3 separate regions of the Homo sapiens genome follow, and all the other regions are linked to region 1. The links come from fine-mapping of genetic effects on gene expression. A gene starts in region 1. Each other region holds a variant in brackets. All regions are shown on one strand. Distances are from middle to middle.

What was found. PIP is the estimated chance that this variant, and not a neighbour inherited with it, causes the effect. A credible set is the group of variants that fine-mapping cannot tell apart.
Region 2: its variant is the best candidate, but not a certain one, in a credible set for the expression of SHISA6 in tibial nerve (GTEx, PIP 0.85).
Region 3: its variant is the best candidate, but not a certain one, in a credible set for the expression of SHISA6 in testis (GTEx, PIP 0.78).

What each region holds. Positions count from the first base shown.
Region 1 is chr17:11,239,852-11,242,351 of GRCh38, forward strand. It overlaps SHISA6 (shisa family member 6), which reads left to right and starts at 1,362. Exons shown (of 6, transcript NM_207386.4): 1 at 1,362-2,209. The coding sequence starts at 1,572.
Region 2 is chr17:11,813,694-11,816,193 of GRCh38, forward strand. The region is part of intron 45 of DNAH9 (dynein axonemal heavy chain 9); the gene reads left to right. Among named protein-coding and RNA genes, the nearest start is that of ZNF18, 180 kb to the right of the region's middle. The variant T/C (reference allele first, on the strand shown) is at 1,337.
Region 3 is chr17:11,906,649-11,909,148 of GRCh38, forward strand. The region is part of intron 61 of DNAH9 (dynein axonemal heavy chain 9); the gene reads left to right. Among named protein-coding and RNA genes, the nearest start is that of ZNF18, 90 kb to the right of the region's middle. RefSeq lists a silencer at 2,092-2,284. The variant A/G (reference allele first, on the strand shown) is at 1,144.

The DNA.
Region 1 (2,500 bases):
TACAAAGCTGAGTCTCAGAGGTTCAGATAGCTTTCTAATGGCCTCGAGGCTCCGCGGGGAAAAAAAAAAGTATAGCAAAGAGTTGCCATCCAGTCCTGGGGCTGTCTAGCGCCTTTATGCGTAGTGGGTACGGGGTTGGGGAAAGAGTGACCAAGGGGAAGAGAGTGTAGGCTCAGCTCACGGGTCGCCCAACAGCCTCAGACAAGCCACTTGACCCCTGGACTCAGTTTGGGAACCTGTAGCAATGGGTTTGACCTCTTCTCCTGGCTGCGAGTATCACCACTAGGGAGAGGCAAAGGCTTGCAGAAACCCCAACTCCCGCTCAGGCAGCGCGCTGCCCCGGGCTCCGGTAGGGTGGGGACTGGTCGCGAAGGCTAGAGAAGGCAATGGCAGGGGAGGTCAGTCCCTGCCGCGGGCCGGCTGCAGAGCGGACGTTCCGCCCTGCTCCCGGCCCCCTCTTCGCCCGCCGGGTTCGCCGTGTCGAATAACTGCTGTCCGGAGCTTTCGTGACGCGGAGCTTCAACTGCTGCGATCCGGAAGAAGCGAAAAGGAGTCCCCCCCGCCCCGCACCCTGAGCGCCCGGGCGTGCAAACGTGGGTGGCGGAGAGCGGCTGCCCTCCCCTCCCCTGTCCCCCCTCCCCTCGCGGCGCTCCCGTGTGTGCGGGTGTGTGAGTGCGTGTGTCTCCCTCGCTCACTCTCGCACACGTTCCGGCACTAGTGCAGGCGGCGAGCCGGCGGCTCTCCGCTCGCTCGCTCCGGCAGCTGCGTTCCCGCCTCGCCCCGCCGCCGCCGCCGCCGCCGCCGCCGCCGCCTCTGCAGTCGCAGCCGGGCATGGTGAGTGAGTGAGGTCCAGCCGCCGCGCGCTCTCCCGGCTCGCCGCCGGACCCCAGCCTCAACCGGCTCCGTCCCAGGGAGCCAGCCTGCGGCGGGAGCGCGCTGCGGGGCCGGGCGGCTGGGGGACCCGGGCGGCCGAGCTGCGCCTGGAGGGGCGGCCCGTGCGCTCTCGGTTCCAGGCGCGCAGGGCCGCGGGACCCCGTCTTGGGAGCGGGCTCTACGCCCCTCCCGGCTCCGAGTCTCTCTCCTCGAGGGCTGCGCGCACCCTCCCCGCCCGCCTGCCCGCGGTTCTCCTCCTGCTCCCGGAGCGCCAGTCGCCCCACCCCGTGACCGGCTCCCCGTCTTGTCCCGCAGGACCCGCCCGGACGGGACCACGCCGCCGCCGCCGCCGCCGCCGCCCGGAGCCGCGCTTCGGGTCCTGCCTGAGCCGAGCCGCGCGCGGGGCCGCAGTCACCGCCGGCGGGGGATGGGGCTGCCCAGGAGGCGCGCCGAGCCCGCAGGGGGAGCGCGGAGCCGGCGCGCAGCCTGAGAGCCCGAGCAGCCCGCGCCGGGCCGGTCCGTGCGCACCGCGCGCCGCCGCCGCCACTGCCGCCCGCGCCTCGATGGCGCCATCGCCCCGGAGCCGCTGACCGCTCAGCGCCTCCAGCCCGGCCCGCGCGGCGGGTCCTCCGAGCCCGGCCCGCCGGGGGAGCGGCCTGCCGCGGAAGCCTCCCCGCGCCCTCCCGCCCGGCCCCGCCATGGCGCTGCGGCGCCTCCTGCTGCTGCTGCTGCTCTCGCTGGAGTCCCTGGACCTGCTGCCCAGCGTCCACGGAGCCCGCGGCCGCGCCGCCAACCGGACCCTGAGTGCAGGCGGCGCTGCCGTCGGGGGCCGGAGGGCCGGGGGCGCCCTGGCACGGGGCGGCCGCGAGCTGAACGGCACCGCCCGGGCGCCCGGAATCCCGGAGGCGGGAAGCCGGCGGGGGCAGCCCGCGGCGGCTGTGGCGGCGGCGGCCAGCGCGGCCGTCACCTACGAGACGTGCTGGGGCTACTACGACGTGAGCGGCCAGTACGACAAGGAGTTCGAGTGTAACAACAGCGAGAGCGGCTACCTGTACTGCTGCGGTACCTGCTACTACCGCTTCTGCTGCAAGAAGCGCCACGAGAAGCTGGACCAGCGCCAGTGCACCAACTACCAGAGCCCGGTGTGGGTACAGACGCCCAGCACCAAGGTGGTGTCGCCGGGGCCCGAGAACAAGTACGACCCGGAGAAGGACAAGACCAACTTCACCGTCTACATCACCTGCGGGGTGATCGCCTTCGTCATCGTGGCCGGCGTCTTCGCCAAGGTCTCCTACGACAAGGCCCACCGCCCTCCACGGGAGATGAACATCCACAGGTGAGAGCGCCGCGTGCCGCGCGCCCCGGTCTCCCCGCGGCCTCACCCTCTCAGCTTGCTTCCCCTGTCCTCTTCACTCTCGGCATCATCACACCTCCCCAGGCCCTCTAGTCATTTCCACCATCGCTCCTTTTGCATGCAATAAATCAGGGTCTTCTTGTGCCCCCTCCTCCATTTCTTCAGAACCGGGAATGCATGCTTTGGTGGTAGGGGGATTTACAAGGCAGAGTAAGAATTGGTTGAGTGCATGAAGTTCCAAGTGTAAGAATGTTACAAATTCTGTAATCGTGG
Region 2 (2,500 bases), 570 kb after region 1:
CTTCTTTATCTCACCATTTCATTTCTTGTTTTCCTGACACCATTTCTAAAATCAAACCATGATAGTAATTTGGCTTATGAATCTACTTCTGACACGAACTACAGCATTTCAGAACCCATCTTTATGCCAGTTGTATCTCAGATGGATTATAGATGGACATGAAGAAATCTTACACACAAAGCAAAAATATTAAATTAGGTTCCTGGTTTAATTAGCAAAAGATACATAACTGTATAAGAACTAGAGTGGCTGCCCAGGGTAAGAGCAGATGAACCACATATTTGAGTCACTTCCCTTGGCTGCTGGGGTCCTTGATAGGGGTCATGCAACTGCTGGTGAAACTGTGCATGAAATGTGAGTCCTTGCTGGATCTGAAAGGTTCATTACTGGCTATGTTCTTATTGACCTGCTATAATAATTCCTGAGGAATGTGCACTGATCATCAAACCCAGGCATTTAAGGAATTCTTACAAAACTTGTTCTCTTTTTGACCTTCACTTAAACTCAACTTCAGCAAGTCCCCACTCTAATTTAGAGGGAAAAAAAATCAGAATTATTCCCTGGCTTTCCAGGAAAACACCTCTTCCTCCAGCTTTCCAGCCTTCCAGAAGGCCCATTTTACTCTGGTGCCCCTGCCAGTTAGCACTAACCAGCTAAGAAAACCTAGTCAGCTCCAAGTGTGATGTTTCTTCCACCCCTAGCTATGACAGATTTTGTATTTTATTTTATTTTGGAATCCTATGTTAGGATTTTCCTTTTGCTTTCCAAAAGGCTGAATTGTTTTATTCAAAATTATAATTCATTTTCCTGTCCCAGGCTAGATGACTTTCTATGTATTCATATATTCAATAATCATTTACTAAGTGTGCATGCTCAGTCACTAGGTACTGTGCTCAAAGATGAATAACATGTAACCTCTGTGCAGTCTCATGGAAGAGTTTATAACCAATGGGGTCCCTCTCTTCTAAAGTCATATTCTTCTTTATCTCTAAACCAAACTGTTCTTTTTATATATCTGTGGGCCAAATCTCCTCTTAGGATCTAGAACATAAAAAGATCCACCTCATATCCTAGGTGCTTTAGGATTAGAGCTAGGGTTGACATGTTAGTGTTCAACACACATCCTATGAGAATGCAGAGCCCGGAAGTGTTTATAACAGACTTGGCATTGGATTGTTCTCCTCTGGTGGCCGTCTGGAACTGGACTTCCTGAGGAGCCATCTATGCTGTTAAATAAATTGAATTCTGGCCCAGTTTCCCTAGAAAGAAAAAAAAAACAATAAAGTTGGGGCAAAAAAGCAACCATCAAGCATGCACTGATCCTCTAAGACATACT[T/C]AGTGGACTCATTAGATCTGCTCACTGGCTGTGCCCTCAAACCACAGACAGTGGAACTTTAAACCAGGACCGGTTTGGTTCTCCAGCTGCAAAACAGAAACTCCCAAAGAGCAATGCAAAAAGAAGCATGAGCAATCAGACTTTTCTTTTCCTTTTGTGGTAATAAACTGTTTTTTTTTTTCTTGTGGAACTGAAGTCCTATACAAGTTACTCAAGAGACTTTGTGTTCTGTGGATTCCCTATATTGCTAACCTCTCCCTTACCACCTATGTCCAAGAGATAATCTATTGCCACCAATTTTCCCCTTATCTATTTCTGAATCCGTATCTTCTCTATCCTCACTACCACTGGTTTTGCCTTCTTTTGCCTTGACAAACGCCAACACTCCTTAACTTATCTCTCTACTTCCCATGCTATCCCCACTCCAATCCATTCTCCTCACTCCTTGCAAAAGGGTCTATCTCAACTATAATTCCTGGCCAGGAGCAGTGGCTTACACCTGTAATCCCAGCACTTTGGGAGGCCAAGATGGGCGGGTCACTTGAGCCCCAGAGTTCAAGGCCAACCTGGGCAACATGGCAAAACCTTATCTCTATGAAAAGTACAAAGAGTATCGGGGCTTGATGGAGCGCACCTCAGGTCCCAGCAACTCGGGAGGCTAAGGTGGGAAGATCGCTTGTGCCCAGGAGCTTGAGGCTGCAATGAGTTGTGATTGTGCCATTGCAATCCAGCCTGGCTGACAGAGCAAGACCATGTCTCCAAAAAAAGAAAAAAGAAAACAAACAAACAAAAACACTGTAATTTTTTTATTAGTTCCCAACTGGTTGCAGAATGAACTCCAAGCTTCTTTGTCCTGTTTCCTTCCTTCCTTGCTAGTCTCACTTCCCATCTTGTGATCTAGTGATTCCTAATTCCTTAAGGTAACACACTGTGCTACTTGCTGACATCCTTAATTGCTTATGCTGTTCCTTTTGAACCTCATGCCCTTCTTTGTCTGGATTAACTTCTACCCACAGTAGAAGACTTACCTTAGGCGTTCCCTCTCTAGAAAATCTAGAGACAGATCCACTGTCACTCTTAGGAATGAGTTCCCCATATTCCTACAGCACTCGATAGCTGCACGTACCACCACTGTATTGAAACGAGATTGTAAATTTATGAAAG
Region 3 (2,500 bases), 670 kb after region 1:
AAATGTGATACATATATACCATGGAATACTATGCAGCCATAAAAAGGAATGAGATCATGTCCTTTTCAGGGATGTGAATGGAGTTGGAAGCCATTATCCTCCACTAACTAATGCAGGAACAGAAAACCAAACACCGAACGTTCTCACTTAAAGTGGGAGCTGAGTGATGAAAACACATGAGCACAAAGAGGGGAAGAACACACACTGGGGCCTATTGAGGGGGTGGCAGAGGAAGAGCATCAGGAGGAATAGCTTAATGGATGCTGGGCTTAATACCGAGGTGATGGGATGATCTATGCAGCAAACCACCATGGCACATGTTTACCTATGGAACAAACCTGCACATGTACCACTGAACTTAAAATAAAGTTAAAGAAACAAAAATAGAATATTCAGCATGTCCAACTTCAAAACCAAAAAAACAAAAATGATAAGGGGTGGTGGAGACCAAGGTTTTTTCATGCAGTGAAGCCTCCAGGTAGCAGGCTTCAGAGAGAATAGATTGTAAGCGTTTCTTATCAGACTTAAAGAGTCTGTCCTGGCCGGGCACGGTGGCTCACGCCTGTAATCCCAACACTTTGGGAGGCCAAGGCAGGTGGATTACCTGAGGTCAGGAGTTCGAGACTAGCCTGACCAACACAGAGAAACCCCATCTCTACTAAAAATACAAAATTAGCTGGGCATGGTGGTGCATGCCTGTAATCCCAGCCACTCAGGAGGCTGAGGCAGGAGAATCGCTTGAACCCAGGAGTCAGAGGTTGCAGTGAGCCAAGACCACACTATAGCACTCCAGCCTGGGCAACAAGAGTGAAAAAAAAAAAAGAGTCTGTCCTATCAGTAATTCCAAAAGAAAGGAGGGTGTAATGAGGCATGTCTGACCCCCCCTTCCCATCATGGCCTGAACTAGTTTTTCAAGTTAACTTTGGAATGTCCTTTGCTGAGAGAAGGGGTCCATTCAGAATGGCTGGGAGGCTTAGGATTTTATTTCTGGTTTTCAAGTCTAGTATTGATTATGGAATGAAAGAACTAACAGCATATGCTTTGTGCCTCAGGGGAGGAGAGATAAAGCTAACTAGGCCCTAAAGAACGAATAAGATGTGCATAATAAAATCAGTAATAGAGAAGAATTAAAAATGAAAAGCA[A/G]CAGCCCCCAGCACCAGCCCTCCAGATACGCAGTCCCCCTTCCCAGGCCCTATGCTTTTGTCCATTTCTGAATTTAGTTCCTTTGAGAATTACTTCTCATTTCCTAGTAATAACCTTATATCACCATTTTTGTATTAGCAGTTTTAGATAAAGTGTCTATTCCTGATATGAAAAACAAGGATTTAGCGTGCACTGTGTTCTGTCTGTGTCGTCTTAGATTCTGTATGTGTCTGTTTGGCACTGAAGCATCACAGGGCCAAATGCATTAACTATACAGTCTTCCCTCCACATACACGGGGTGGGGACTGGGAGGTATTGGTTCCAGTCCTTGCATATCCCAGTCCCATCACCGGCCCTGCCATTTGTATATACAGGCTTCACATCTCTCAAATACTGCTGTATTTTCATCTGAGTTTGGTTGAAAAAAATCCATGTGTAAGTGGACCCACACAATTCAAACCTGTGTTGTTCAAGGGTCGACTGTACTCTCTTTTTCTATATTCTTCTAAAACAAATTTTTTAATTGACAAATAATAATTGCACATATCAATGAGACACATAGTGAAGTTTCCATTCACATAATACATAGTAGTCAGATCAGGGTGATTAGTATCATGAGCAGCACAAAGTCAGACATAACCAGATCCACAGACATTTGTGTCTTTCTACAGTATCAGTCTTTTACTGATGCTATTCCAATCATAAAAGCCACAAGCTTTACGGAGGTAATTCTTCTTAGTATATCCCATTTACTCGGTAGTCAGAGCTGTAGGCACACAGGCTCAAGCCATTCCAAAAGTCAGTCGATATTGCAAACCATACATAATGGTATACTAAATCAATACAAATGTTACAGATTAAACATTCCACATCAAACGAAGTAACATCTAACATCAAGAGAAAGGGGATAGGAAAATGGGTTAATGAAACAGTCCAAGGGGAGCAATGTGGACAAAAAGAATCTCCTGTCCTGGTCTGGGCAGTCTTTTAACGAACCACAAGGAAGAGTCTTTGATGTGGGCAGAGCCTTCCGCGGATGCCGGGTGTTTATCACAATTAACAGCAAGACCAGTGTCTGTCAAGATGGCTGTTCTGAGCCAGTGAAGTCCTCTGGTGAGGACTGATAGTGGGAAAGTGTGCCTGGTTATGTCCTTATCTGGTTGCATGCAGTCTCTACTGATTAGGCAAACATCTGGTCCCTGTTGGTACGATGCCTTTTAAAATGTAAGATGGAGTCTTTTGCTAAGATGGAATTACTTATGCTCCATACATTAGCATATCCACGAACTCAAACATTTAATCATTTCCTTGTGTTGGGAACGTTCCATATCCACCTTCTAGCTACTTGAAACTATAT